Linked DNA regions of Homo sapiens. The protein of the gene in region 1 purifies or fractionates together with the protein of each later gene. This does not show direct contact. Each region holds a gene or a part of one and is shown in the gene's direction. Other genes may lie near its edges.

Region 1 (4,163 bases):
GTTAATAATATATAGTTTCAAATTGCTAGGAGGATATTGAATGTTCTCAACACAAATGATAAGCCCCCGGGGGAGTGGCTTCTGTGAGACCTAAATCCTCATCTGCCACAGAAGGAAGGCAACACATACTCTCCATAACTGAAAATGCAAGAAATAGCAGAAAATGACTATTATTTAAAAATACGGGCCAGGCGCAGTGGCTCGTGCCTGTAATCCCAGCACTTAGGGAGGCTGAGCCGAGAGGATCACCTGAGGTCAGGAGTTCAAGACCAGCCTGCCCAACATGGTGAAACGCCGTCTCTACTAAAAATAGAAAAATTAGCCAGGTGTCGTGGCGTGCGCCTGTAATTCCAGCTACTCAGGAGGCTGAGGCAGGAGAATCTCTTGAAACCGGGAGGCGGAGGTTGCAGTGAGCCAAGATCATGCCACTGCACCCCAGCCTGAGCGACAGAGCAAGACTCTGTCTCAAAAAAATAAAAAACATACGGAAACAGGTATTAGAAGAACAGCTTAAAATGTTGAAGGTGGTTAGTCTGGGGACCAGTACTCTGGGACTGGGAGGACTAGACCAGAGGTCGGCTGTTTTGCTCTTAAGGCTTACAGAACGATCTAGTTTCAAACTATCTATGTTTAACTTCGACTTTTTCCTATCAGGCTCGGTGCTGCTATTCCACTGAGCTCATGGAAAATTAAATCTTTATTAGGAGCCTTCCAAGATCACAGTGGGGTGGCAATGGGGACAGATAATGCAGAAAAGCGAAGGCTCACTGGTCTACAAATACACGTCTATCACAACCTGTAAAAGTTAACCCTGTCCCAGCCTGGCCAATATGGTGAAACTCCGTCTCTACTAAAAAATACAAAAATTAGCGGGGCGTGGTGGCGGGCGCCTGTAGTCCCAGCTACTGGGGAGGCTGAAGCAGGAGAATGGCGTGAACCCGGGAGGCGGAGCTTGCAGTGAGGCGACATCGCGCCAGTGCACTCCAGCCTGGGCGACAGAGCAAGACTACGTCTCAAACAAAGAAACAAGTTAACCCTGTCAACATCTCGACTTTAAATGCAAAGCACTGCACATGCACACGCTGAACACCTCCCCTTCCTTCTCCAGGGGCAACACAAGCACAACCGCCGCACATTTACGAATCTACACAACTGCGCATCGGAGCGAATGAGGTCAGGGCCCAGAAAGGTGGGGCAGGAACGATCCCAGCCTTCAGCTAATTCTGTCACCTCTAACGTCTGGGGCAAGAACGTTTCAGGAAACCAAGGGGGACCGAGGCTCAGCGCCGAAGAGAAAGACGCCAACTGCGGGACCTGTCGCGCCTCCCGCGCCGGGGTGGAGCTGACCCCGCCGAGTCCCGCCCCTGCCTGAGTTCGCCAGTGGTCCAGGAGCCGCTTTTTTCCACTCGGGAAGACTTCAGAGAAGTCTCACAAAGGACTCGGCTGGCTGCTTTTCTCAGTGCCGAAGCCGCGCCATGCTCGTTCTCAGAAGCGGCCTGACCAAGGCGCTTGCCTCACGGACGCTCGCGCCTCAGGTACTGGCCGCGGGGGCGCGCCCGAGCCCTGGCCGGAGGGGAGGGGAGGGGCGGGGGGTATTTCTGAAGCGTGCGAGCCACGCTCAGGCGCTCCCAGACCTGGGGCCCCGCGCCGCCGCCGAAGTTCTAACGCGGTCTCTGGAGCCGTCTGGCGCGCAAGGAGGAGGCTACAGGCCGGGGTCGTCTCGCTGGCAGTCGCTGTCAGAGGGGTTTTCTAACTGGATGCCAGTGTTTTTGTGATTTTTGTTTTTGTTTTTGAGACGGAGTCTCGCTCTGTCGCCCAGGCTGGAGTGCAGTGGCGTAGTCTCGGCTCAGTGCAACCTCCGCCTCCCGGGTTCAAGCGATTCTCCTGCCTCATCCTCCGGAGTAGGTGGAATTACAGGCGCCAGCCACCACGCCCGGCTAATTTTTTTTGTGTTTACTATTTAGTAGAGTCGGGGGTTTCACCATGTTGGTCAGGCTGGTCTCGAACTCCTGACCTCGTGATCCGCCCACCTTGGCCTCCCAAAGTGCTGGATTGCAGGCATGAGCCACTGTGCCCAGCCTGATGCCAGCTGTTTCTAGCCTAAATGCCACAACTCCCGGGACACCCCCGTGGCGCCAGCTGTTGCGTTTTTTTAGGATAACATCTCCAGATACAAATCTCCGAAAATCAACTTTAAAAGCAGTTATTAGAAATACCTCATTGGCCCATTTTCCGAGATAATAATATTTTTAAACTGTAGATACTAAGCAGTTTTTTATTTTCAGAATTTGATTAAACTGACCCAAAAAGAATGGCCATCAAAAGAAAGGATAGTTGCAGGTATTTTTTGGTATGAAGAAGGGTTTTCTAAGAAAACTAAGACACTTGGGCAATAAGGGCATAACTCATACTGGAGATGAATGAACTCAAGATAGACAATTATAATTAAGACGTTATGCACACAAACTACATAGACATTTGCATGTTGTAACCAAAAATATGTCAGTGAAAGATGCCTACTGAAACTGTTGCGATAGATTATTCTGGGTAGTGAGCCTCAGGAAATTGTCACATGCTAACCATGCCTAAATGAATGGATTTGTAAACTAGAATGCCACGGGAGTGGTCTGTGTATACACGTGTGTTTACATAAATATTTGCATGTACGTACATACAGACAGACTGGATAATTTCTGACAGGGCATTTGCTACTGAACATTAAGCTCACTCAGGCTCAGAGGGCCAGATTAGGACAGAAAATTTACCCATTGGGCATATGACTATTACAAAGGGTGGTTCTTAAAGGATAGTTCCATAAACTTGGTATAATTGAGTGCACTAAATGTACATACTTCTTGATATTGCATCTGTAATTAGAAACAATGATGGAGACAATTCTCATTTGTTGAGTTTTTTTCCTTTTCAGCCTTTATGCAGTATACACCCATAGTACAATGCAATTGGATAAGTTATAGCTTCCTTTTATATTAGTTACATTCCAGTCCTGTTTTTGACCGGTAGTCTTCATCAGTAGATTCAGGAAATACTTTGACCTGAATAGCCCTTCCTGTTTTTTTAGGAACCTTTTAAAAACAAGAGTTTTTTGTTAGTAAACGTATTTTTGGGCCTGCCAAAAGGCATGTGTACTTAATAAATTTTTTTCAATGTGTGGAACTAATACATATGGTATTGAGTAAGATGGAATATTGGCTAAACAGGGGAAAACCCTTTGTAAATTAAAGAGACTAAGTCTTAAATGTAGTTCTTCGGTAAAGGAGTATCATTATGATCCCACAGCCTTCTTGTGAGCAAATTCTCGTGAAAAAATGGCTAGAGGTAGACCCCTGCTAGGAAACAGTTGCTATATATTCATCAGAATTAAGAGTAGTTATCTTTATTGACATCTCTATGTAAACAAGTGTATATGGAGAATTGACAACAAAAGTAAACAATGGATAATGAGTCTATGTGTGTTCCTTGTACCAGACTCAGATTTGGTTGTAACCAAATCTGTAATTGTACCTTCCCAAGATATTTACATTTGTCTTACCTCCTTCAGGTGTGTTCATCTTTTGCTACGGGCCCTAGACAATACGATGGAACGTTCTATGAATTTCGTACTTATTACCTTAAACCTTCAAATATGAATGCGTTCATGGAAAATCTTAAGAAAAACATTCATCTTCGGACCTCTTACTCTGAATTGGTTGGATTCTGGAGTGTAGAATTTGGAGGCAGAACGAATAAAGTGTTTCATATTTGGAAGTATGGTAAAGAGTCATCCAGTTTTAGTATTCAGTATAGATTTTCATTCTGTTAAATGTAACATAAGACTTAGTTCTTGGATCTATATTACCATAGATACATACAGGTTAAGTAAGACTTTTTAAAAGCAATACCAAAAAAATAAATTTAGCAGATCTTCTTCCCAGTGGTACACCTCTAACCACCCCTTGCTTGAACTCTTATGTTATCATAAATGAGAAAACATGCAGTCTCATATATCAAACCATAAAATTGTGAATTAGACTTTAATCCTCAGAAAAATGTTAGAATCGTTTGCTATAAAGATAGCTCATGAAAAATTTAAAGCAGTAATTGTAAATGTTCAAGTGGGTTAAGATCACCGTTGGGCCTGCCAAAAGACATGTATATTTAATAAA
Region 2 (3,500 bases), on another chromosome or scaffold:
CTAGTTTTTGTATTTTTAGTATAGACGGGGTTTCACCTTGTTGCCCAGGCTTGTCTTGAACTCCGGAGTTCAAGTGATCTGCCCGCCTCGGCCTCCCAAAGTGCTGGGATTACAGTCATGAGCCACCGTGCCTGGCCACCATTTACTTTTCTCGGTGGTTTGGCTTGTTTTGGCTTGCGGGTATAGGAGACACACTGGGTGGGAGGTGGGGGTACGTTCTATACGTGCTGATTTAATCGTTTCCGATCTGGGGACATTTGAAGGATGCCAGCAAGGCCCCCTGCTGAAAACTATGCTCCCTACCCTGGTGCCAGGGCTGAAAATTTCAGCACTAGACATCCTCTTCTCTCTCCGCAGTCCTTCTATAATGTATTATCAGGGGCCACAGTGAGAGTCTGGGGCCCTCCCAGCTTTCCCCTTATGTCCCCAGGATGGGCCATCCCCAGTTCTGGAAATACGAGTTCGGTGCCTGCACCGGCAGCCTGGCTTCGCTGGAGCAGTACTCGGAGCAGCTGAAGGACATGGTGGCCTTCTTCCTGGGCTGCAGCTTCTCCCTGGAGGAGGCCTTGGAGAAAGCGGGGCTCCCCAGAAGAGACCCAGCAGGTCACAGCCAGGCGGGTGCATACAAGGTAGGGACACAGCCCACAGCCCACAAGGGCAGAATGGCCTGAAGATGCAGATCAACTTACATATTCCTGGGGTGGGGAGAACATGGGCACGGGAGGTGGAAAACCTAAGCTCCAGCCCCAGCTCAGCCATTTCTAGCTGTGCAACCCAGGAGAAATGATCAATCTCTCTGAGCCAGCCTCGGTCCCACTCACCTCTGGGACCACTGTGAGCACCCAGTGTGGCCCTTCTTCATGGTTCAGTGCTGTAAACCAAACCTGCTTGGGATTTCTCTGGCTCCTTTAACTTCAGGCACCTCAGCGAGATTTTTAAAAATCCTCCCTGGCTCCGGTGAGCCTCAGCCAGGGGGAATGAGCCTGGCTCTCTCAATACCCAGGGATTTGTGGCAGAGCCTCGGCCAGGCAGTAGCTCCTGGGTCAGGTCTCTGTCCAGAAAGCTGGGTCATGTTCTTGGCCGGAGGTGGCCTCTGGCAGTCACAAACACAGCACAGCCGGCGTCTCTGGGACGTGCCTGCTGTGCCTCTCCCAGCCCCTACTTGTCAAGGTGAGTGCACTCGATTCCCTGGTTCCACAGACCCTTCCTGGACATCTGTTGGTAAAGTCTGAGAGTTCACTCTGCTCCATCAGTGGTCAGCCAGCATAAACAGCCAGGCTCCAGGTTTCTTTATTTATGGAGGACTTGGATCAGAGATTTTGTCTTGGACTCTGGGACATTTATTAAAATGTCTTGGTTTGGGCTCCTGCCAGAGAGGCCCCAGCTGCCTCTGATCAGCAACAAAGCTGCCCATAGTCTGTGCTGCCTTCATGGGTGAAGTGTGCCCGAGCGGTTCTCTTGAAGCTAGGGAAGGGTGGGGATGGGACCCCAGCCACTGGCAGGCACCCATGGCAGTCTCTGGCTCTGGAACACAGCACCCTTTGTAGGAGGTGGGAGCTGAGAGGGCCCCATGGCTCGTCACATGCAGATTCTCATTTTAGATGAGGAAACCGAGGTCTAAAGAGAGAAAAGGACTTGCCCAAGTCCCAAAGCCAGATGGGAACCTGGAACCCCTGGCTCCCATCTGTACAATGTCAATAACAGAGATGTGACAATTAAATGATGCTTTGCAGTCACAGGGTCTGCTGATATGGCAACTGTTTGTTGCCTACAAAGGTGCAAGTAAGTGTCCACAGTAAGTGCTCAACAGGGCTTCACTGACCCCGATGCTTATCAAATAGCTTTCAGTCTAATATCGACACCTCTGCCCCTGGGCTCCAGGGAGAGATGGCCAGACAGCCATCTGGGATTCCATTGGCCACCCCCAGACGGGATGTGTCTCAGCCTTGGGGAGGGCTGCCTGGCTCTGCCAGTGGCTCCAGCATGTCCCCTCTCCTGGGTGCTATTATGCAGACACTGCTGGCAGCCACACCGAGGTTCCATCCTGCTGCCGCCAGGGTGGTGATAGCAAGCTCTTTAGGTGGTGGCCAAGACTGTCACAGTGGATTATAGTCCTGGCCATGTCCTAAATCTTTCATAAGCTCTATTGCAGGCACCAGAAACCATTCAGGAGGTGGGGTGGGGGAGCGAAACACCAATAAAAGTCACACAGATCAAACCGGGCAACATCTGTTAAGGCAGGAGGCACCAGGCCGTGCTCCATGGGGTCTGGGGACAGGCTTGTTGCTTGTGTGGATTCAGGAGGCAGAGTGAACACCAGCTCCTCCTGTGATGTTCTCCCTTGCCTCCCTCTGCCCGTGATTCACCAGAGGCTGTTTACCTTTGGTCCATGGCCCTTGCAGTCCCTAGAGAAATTCAGAGGCTCCATGATATTGGATGGGAAAAAAAGTACGTTTTTCTTTTCCCTTCTTCCCTCCCTCCCTTCTTTATTTTATTTTATTTTTATTTTTATTTTTGACAGTTCTTGCTCAGTTGCCCAGGCTGGAGTGGTGCAGTGGCACAGTCACAGCTCACTGCAGCCTCAACCTCCTGGGTTCAAGAGATCCTCCCATCTCAGCCTCCCGAGTAGCTGGGACCATAGGCATGTGCCAGCACACCCAGCTAATTTATGGTTTTGGTTTTTTTTGGTAGAGACAGGGTTTCGCTGTATTGCCCAGGCTGGTCTTGAACTTCTGGGCTCAAGCGATCCAACCTTCTTGGCCTCCCAAAGTGCTGGTATTACAGGCATGAACCACTGTGCCCAGCCTCAATTTTATTTTCATAACCTCAACTCACATTTAGCATTTCCTTCAATTATGAATGTAGGCAGCAAATGGCTGTCATATCAGCAGACCCTGTGACTTCATGGCTGGCAACAGAAATCACAGATATCTTCATATCACGTTAGAGTTCTTCCTGATGTCTCAAAAATATCCTATATGCTGATCACTACTTCAAAGTTACAATGATAGTAGAACTGGCATCTTGTTTCTTAGGCTGCTACTGAGGAAGCATGCATATTGTCTCACATTTTTCCTTTTTTTTTTTTCTTTGAGATGGAGTCTTGCTCTGTCACCCAGGCCGGAGTGCAATGGTGTGATTTCGGCTCACTGCAATCTCCGCCTCCTGGGTTCAAGCCGTTCTCCTGCCTCAGCCTCCCGAGTAGCTGGGACTAGAGGCGCGTGCCACCATGCCCGGCGAACTTTTGTATTTTTAATAGAGATGGGGTTTCACCATGCTGGCCAGGCTGGTCTCGAACTCCTGACCTCGTGATCCGCCCACCTCGGCCTCCCAAGTGCTGGGATTACAGGTGTGAGCCATCGTGTCTGGCCACATTTTTCTATTATTTGATAACTGTGCTTGCAGGATAATTGGTTTCCTTTGGAATCCTGTGCATTTTCTTGTATGCAGTTAAAGGCATTACTTTGACCAGGGGTCCACAGCTGTACTAGTCTACCAAA
Region 3 (3,500 bases), on another chromosome or scaffold:
TCTTGAAGAATGGACTGGATACCATGCAGTAGGTATGGAAGCTGGAAGTAGGTATGGAAGCTGGAAGTAGGTATGGAAACTGGAAGTAGGTATGGAAGCTTCCAGTAAGCTGGAAGATCTTAGCGAAATGGCATGGACCAACTATGAAGCAACCCAAAAAGGGTAGCATGATGTTGACCAGTTGGAGGAGTATAAAGAAACTCCATTTCATGTTAAGGCTGGGAACATTCTCCTCCAAGGGACACATGAATCATTGTTATTGCATTAATAGGGAAGAAAATGTCTAGGTACACTGTTGTGGTTGTTCTACAGTGATCAATATTTACATAGTTATAATGTCACCAACACTTGATTTTCTACTTTCTTGAAAGAACCTATAGGCAATTTACAGCATCCCTAATTTGGGTTACAGAACAGAATGTAAATATTACCAACCCAAAGACTACAGCAGAAGTAGTAAAGAGTGGCTGCCTCTGGGTTCAGACTGAAGGATAAGATAGGAAAGGGGGAAGGACTTTTGTTTTTCTTCTTTTGTTAAATTTTTAAGCCGTTTACATATATTACTAAGTGATTTTAAAAACAACTGCTCAGGCCAGGCACGGTGGCTCACGCCTGCAATCCCAGCACTTTGGGAGGCCGAGGTGGGCAAACACCTGAGGTCGGGAGTTCGAGACCAGCCTGTCCAACATGGCAAAACCCCGTCTCTACTAAAAATACAAAAATTAGCCAGGAGTGGCGGCGCACACCTGTAATCCCAGACACTCAGGAGGCCGAGGCAGGAGAATCGCTTGAACCCGGGAGGTGGAGGTTGCAGTGAGCCGAGATGGCGCCACTGCACTCCAGCCTGGGCAACAGAGTGAGACTCTGTCTCAAAAAATAAATAAATAAAAATAAAAATAATTGCTCTTTGAAGAGTTCGGGATTTAGACTCAAAAGCTCTTTGTTCAGGTGTCTGGTTTCGGTGCCACTTCTGGGACCACGGGCAAGTCACACAGGCTTCCCAAAGCCTGTTTCCAGACCTCTAAACACCACCACCCCTCTAGGAGCCAGGAAGTGTTGTCAGGAGGAGTCAATTGAATAATGTATGTGAAAGCTCTGTGTAGACTGCTAAGAATCAAGCAAATGTGAACTCTAATTTGTATTACTGTTAATTACTTTATTAGAGGAAGTAGCTGGTTGAAATTACAGCATTCTACCTGAGAGAGTTCATGTAGTTTCAATCTCTTAAGTGATTTTGGGTCATGAGGAGGAGGAAGGACTGTATTTTTGAGCATCTGCTCTGTACCGCACACTGTTCTTATTGCTTCACCTGGGTTTTGGTGTTTCTCAGATTGTCTTCAGATGACCCATGGTGCAAGGGGAAAAGATCATAGGTCTCTAGGGGTTTATGTGCTAGCTGCTTGAGAAAAAGTTATGTGAACCTTACATTCTATGCTATAAGATGCCTTGTTTGTCATAATTTAACAAAACTGAACACTGCCATTTAGTCCAGTTCACCAGCCCTTTTTTTTCCTGTTGCTCCACATTCTCCCGTGGAATTCCCCCTGGGGTCAGTGGCAGAAGGTAGCCCCCAATTTGAAAAACACCAAGTGATATCTGACTGGCCTTCTGTAATACTCAGGATGTTATGGCATAGGTGATAATATTCCAATTCTGCTCAACAAAGTTTCAAAGAGATTGAGTGATTTATCCAAGGTCACATAGCTGGTAAGTGAAGGAACTGGGTGTCACCCCAGGTTTGTTTGATTCTAAAGCATATGCTTTTGCTCAGCCCTGCCTTTAGAGGTGGAAACTCAAATTAGCCTTTTATAGAGCTCTGTTTTACACACTTGGAAAATAGAATGCAAACATCATTCTTGAATTTCTCCTACTTTGGGTCCTTATTGATTGATGGTTTTGTCTCTGTTTTCAGCCAAAGCGCCAGACAAACCTATTCAGGTGGTTTATGTGCCCTCACATCTGTTTCATATGCTATTTGAGTTGTTCAAGGTAAGTGGAATTTTAAAAACGTGGAAAGAAGTCTTCATTTTAAATTACTTTGATTCAGGGCATAATGGATTCATTAGATTAGCATAAGAAAAAGGTTTTGCATAACCATTTTAAAAATTCTATTTCTGATATCCTGTGGGTTTTATAATTTGTACACTGTGAGATGAGAAATTGCTGTGTACACTATAGTTTTTGTGAATATTAGTACATATTGATTTTGAAGCTTAATTGCACTTTAGTGATTTTATGTAAAATCCATACTGTTTTTTCTTTAGTTATGAGATTAGAGATGCTTTTTAGTTTCCAAACCTGGCAAAGGCTTTACTGGTGATAGCCAGATCAAAATAAAAACATGTTTATACATATTTATGCTTCTGAAAATTAACCACACTGGTACATTAGTGGTTGTTCCAGTCCTGAGAGATCCTGCAACTCTTTTATAAAATATTTGAATCAATTCAGAAGATCCAAGAGAGGCAGAGGAGAAAGATGTAGATGAGCTGGACCAAAAGAACCACCCCTCCCCCCCACCAAATTCTTTAGAGTCTGCAACTTAAGCTGTTGCTTTTGTTAATCAGTAGCTAATGACATTTACAGTAGCAGTATTACAGGCACAAGGCATTTGAGCTAAAATTTCATTTCTTCCAATGCGTGAAACACTAAATTGAACACCTGAAAAATCAGTTATGCTGATTTGCTTCCAAAAATTAGAATGTTACTGATGTAACGCTTTAAGGTTGAAATGGGCATTCAATTGTGAACTTTCTCTTCAGCAGCTGTGGCTTTTTCAGAATTTCTTTTTAACCAATATTTCTTCTACTTTTTTCAGCCAAATGATTAATTTTTGTGGGAAGCATGCATCCTTTCAGTTTTTCTGCCTTCTTTAGAGAAAAGGTGCTCTATAAATGCAGACTGATAAATAGGATTTAAAGTGCACAAATCAGCCTCTGCATAGCCTCATTACATGCGATAAAAACATTCCTCTGGGTTGAGTTGAATAATTTAAATACCGTAAAGCGAAAAAAAAAAAAAAAGAGGAAGAAGAAGAAGGAAAGAAAAATAAATATTTAGCATGTTGGATGAGGCTAAAACTAGGTGAAAAACAAAGTGTCAGGAAATTTTTCCTTGATTTGAGCACGTTTAGCTAAGCTCTTTAGAGGGAAAAATGCCATAAAAATCCAACTAATATTTGCCCCAAAAAAGGGTTGTTGGGTATAAGTCATCTTGCGCTTCTTTCTCTTTAAAAATTGTGGTTTGTGATTCGGCAGTATGATTAATAAAAAGATCTTATTATTTTAGAACTCAATGAGAGCGACAGTTGAACTCTATGAAGACAGAAAAGAGGGCTACCCTGCTGTTAAAACCCTCGTTACTTTGGGTAAAGAAGACTTATCCATTAAGGTAACTGTTTTATGTGCATGTATACTTTAATTATCAGTTGTGATTTAATAGTATCTAGACATTGAAAAATCAGAGGGAAGGAAATTGACATTTATTGAGTGTCCTGTTTG
Region 4 (3,500 bases), on another chromosome or scaffold:
TCCATCTTGGGAGGCAGAGTGAGACTCCATCTCAAAATAAAAAAGTAAAATTTATAGAGTCAGGGACTCCTGAGTTCAAGTTCAGCTCTGTCACTGGTTGTGGTGGCTTGGCCAAATGTGCAATCACCTTTTCATCCTCAGTTGCCTTGTCTCTAAAATGGACTAATAATTAATAATAATAATAAGAGAACCTACCTCAATGTAACTGTTTCTGGGTCTACTACAGATTACAGTTAACATAAAAACCTGGCATATCACAGTATCTCCGTGGACTAGATCTATTTCTGCCACATGACGAAGGGGAATATTTGATGCTAGGCATTGTTCACTTACACATTTAGTTAATCCTCACAACACACCTATAAGGTAGGTCCTTTTATTAGCCCTGAGAGGGGTACCTGAGACACATAGAAGTTAGCCAACGTTCCCAAGATTGCATGCTAGGTGATGGCAAAGCCAAGGTTTGAAGCCAGACAAGGAGCTTCCAGGACTCGAACTCTAACTGCTGTGCCATATGTGATCAGCATGATTATTACCATATAATGAGCCTGGTGGTTGTTTGCTTAATAGTGAGGGAGGTACACGCCTAGATTTTATGTTATAAATATTAGAAATTTTTACCATTATTGTCAACATGGATGGACACTCTACTTGTGCGTATGTATGTGGGGTATGTGTGCTTAGTAATATCTGGGTCCAAGTTGGATTCTGAAAGTGAACCCAAATCCTACCTTCTTTTACACTTTTTTCTCCCAAGATCTAAACTCTTACTACTCAAAACTATGACCTGCAGCCCAGTGGCATCAGCATCACCTAGAAGCTTATTAGGAATGCAGAGTTCCAGGCCTACCCAAGCCCTGATTCAGATTCTGCATTTTGAGAAGATGCCTAGGTGACTCCTATCCACATTAAAGTTTGAGAAGCCTTGCTCATGTCGGTATTGAAAAATCCTTGCCGACTTGACAAGAAGGCAATAATATAATTAGTGTGTGTAGCAAATTGTCAGTGTTCCTGAAAAGACTATTTAGATATTGCAAGAAGGAGTTTGGACTGAGGTTTTCTTCTGTGATTTTCCTCATCCCAATTTTCAGCTGACTTCCTCTCTTTCTTCTCTGCTCTAATAGTCAAAGCTTGTATCGACAACCGGTTAGAGAAGTATTCTCAGCAGCCTAGTGCAGATTTCCTTTGTGACATTTATCACCAGAATCGGCTTTCAAAGAAAGAATTGTATGCTGCTGTCACAGAGCTCCAGCTGGCTGCGGTGGAAACGGTAAGGGTGGGCTGGATTTGAGTTTGCTAAATGAACGGTCTGTACCATTTTTAGATGACAGATTTTAAATAGTAATTCATCTCATTCATTTCACTGGGATTCACTAGCATCAACTCCACAAAAATGAAAAGTCTCATACTAGATGCCACGGTGCCTCCGCGCACAGCATCTATGCCACGGTGCCTCAGCGCACGGCCTCATACCAGACGCCACGGTGCCTCCATGCACGGGCTTCTGTGCTTAAACTCTGGGTAGGAGGAGACTTCATGTGCCCCAGTGACAAAAAGCCAGAGTAGGATGTGATGAGTGCCATGATGTCCATGCAAACTGCTACGGGAGTTCAGGAGCAGTAAAGTTCTCTGCCCTGGCAAGATACAGAATCCAGATTTTTCAAAATTGGAAGTATTTTGTTCAGTTGCACATGTTACCCCAAAGTGCCTAACTGTGGCTGTTACTTACTGTAAAAAAAAAAAAAAAAAAAAAAAAAAAAAAAAAAGGCATACTCTCTTTCAAGCCAATAATATTTTTATCTGCTTAGAATTGTAAACAAAGTCCCAAAGAGTCTGGGACAAGTGGATTTTAACTGAAGCAAAACAGCTCATTGTAAAGACCAAAATTCTGTCTCTGATGTGGCCGATACTCCCTAGGAGATAGCAGATACTAAGTGAGACCAACCCCAAACAAATCCTGCCATAGGCATTCAGGTAGGTTTAATTGACTTGGATACTAGTTCGAGCTGTGATGGGAGTGGCGCACGCTAACCTCCTCCTAAGTCCAACATTTCATGCACCTTAAAGTCTCTAAGCAAAATGTAAAGCAGTTGTTTATTTTCCATGTGCTTCCCCTTCTGTGCTGTTTCTTGCCTGAAGTAAAGGTAGGGTTTTCTCTATCAGGAGATAGCGAGGTTCTCATTTCTCCTCCTGCTCCACAAGGCGGTTGAAAGTGGGAATCCATCCTCGCTCACTTTCCTGTTGAACTGCTTACCCTGGGTGGCTCCTTCCAGTGATCAAAGTACAGTGTCACCCATTATTCTTTTATTTTTTCAACTGGAACGTGACCTCTCTGAGGGCAATGGCTTAGAGTTGTCCACTGCTGTGTTTCCAGGACATAGAACAGTACTTGGCATCTAGTAGCGGCTGATAGATACTTGTTGAATAAATGAAGGAATTCAGGAACTATTGAGTGCCTACTGTATGCCTGGGACTGTTCCAGGTTCTTGAGAGACCACCATGAACCAGAGACAAGGGTTCCCACTCTCATGGAACTTGTATGCAAGTGGGGAAGACAGACAGTAGCCATGTAAACAAACAAATGTGGTCACTTTAGATAGTGGTGTGGATTGTGGAGGACGCCATCAGGATGGTGTAATATAGAGAGATGGAGATGATTAAAGGGAAGCCCTCTCTGAGAAAGCAGTACTGGAGCTGACTCTGGAATAATGAGAAGAGCCAGCCACAGAAAGACCTCGTGGAAGAGCGCTGCAGGTAGAGGAAACGGCCCATGCAAAGGCCCTGGGGCAGAAAGAGGGATGGAGCTACAGAACTAGTAAATGTGGTCAGAGCTGAGACTGGAGAATTGGATGGGCCATGTTAGCCAGAGCCTTGTGAGCCCAGCCTGGGTAAGGCATTAGATTTGATTGCACCTGTGATGGGAAGCTCTTGCAGCATTTTAAGCAAGGGAATCACCTGATCATTTATGTTTTTAAAAGTGGGCTCTGGCTGGTGGATGGAGAATAGACTTAGCCAAGAGAGTGGGTACAGCAGGCCAGTCAATGAGCTTGGTCTGTTCCATGGAGGTCAATCAAGGATAGTTTGTGCCCCTGAGGTTTTCCAGGCCACTTCCCCTCAAATCAGCTGCTGCAGCTTAGCCCCTGCAGTTTTCCCTACAGGCTCAGACTGCCTTACGTGGCTTTGGTAAAAGCTACAGTCATCTGCCCTTTGGAAACTCTATTTGGTACTTGCGGTGAGGGACTCACTGATATGGTTAAATCTGTTTCTTTTTTGGTCCTGGCTATTCTGAAAGTCACATTTGGAAAATCAGAACCATTTGAAAGTGTATCTAATTTGATGGCTACACCCTCTTCCTGTTTTGTAAATTAGACTCTTATAATAATGGCATCTACAGTTTATTTGCAGCCGAGGCTGCCAGTCCTCTGACATGAAGAAGACTGCCTTGGAGGCATCTTCTTCCAAAAATAATAAAATAACCATCATCTCTGAATGGTCTTGCA

The links. The genes of interacting proteins can lie anywhere in the genome.
Region 2: the proteins of NIPSNAP3B (region 1) and DGLUCY purify together in Homo sapiens (affinity purification with mass spectrometry; one large-scale study listed by BioGRID and IntAct). This does not show direct contact.
Region 3: the proteins of NIPSNAP3B (region 1) and PDK3 purify together in Homo sapiens (affinity purification with mass spectrometry; one large-scale study listed by BioGRID and IntAct). This does not show direct contact.
Region 4: the proteins of NIPSNAP3B (region 1) and CYP24A1 purify together in Homo sapiens (affinity purification with mass spectrometry; one large-scale study listed by BioGRID and IntAct). This does not show direct contact.

The regions. Positions count from the first base shown.
Region 1 is NC_000009.12:104,762,766-104,766,928, forward strand, and holds the start of NIPSNAP3B (protein NipSnap homolog 3B), read left to right. Parts: upstream 1-1,363; 5' UTR 1,364-1,475; coding exon 1,476-1,535; intron 1,536-3,559; coding exon 3,560-3,770; intron 3,771-4,163.
Region 2 is NC_000014.9:91,169,573-91,173,072, forward strand, and holds part of DGLUCY (D-glutamate cyclase, mitochondrial isoform b precursor), read left to right. Parts: intron 1-430; coding exon 431-629; intron 630-3,500. UniProt on the Homo sapiens protein: D-glutamate cyclase that converts D-glutamate to 5-oxo-D-proline.
Region 3 is NC_000023.11:24,524,286-24,527,785, forward strand, and holds part of PDK3 (pyruvate dehydrogenase kinase, isozyme 3 isoform 2 precursor), read left to right. Parts: intron 1-1,912; coding exon 1,913-1,989; intron 1,990-3,288; coding exon 3,289-3,390; intron 3,391-3,500. UniProt on the Homo sapiens protein: Inhibits pyruvate dehydrogenase activity by phosphorylation of the E1 subunit PDHA1, and thereby regulates glucose metabolism and aerobic respiration. Can also phosphorylate PDHA2.
Region 4 is NC_000020.11:54,160,487-54,163,986, reverse strand, and holds part of CYP24A1 (1,25-dihydroxyvitamin D(3) 24-hydroxylase, mitochondrial isoform 1 precursor), read left to right. Parts: intron 1-1,124; coding exon 1,125-1,270; intron 1,271-3,500.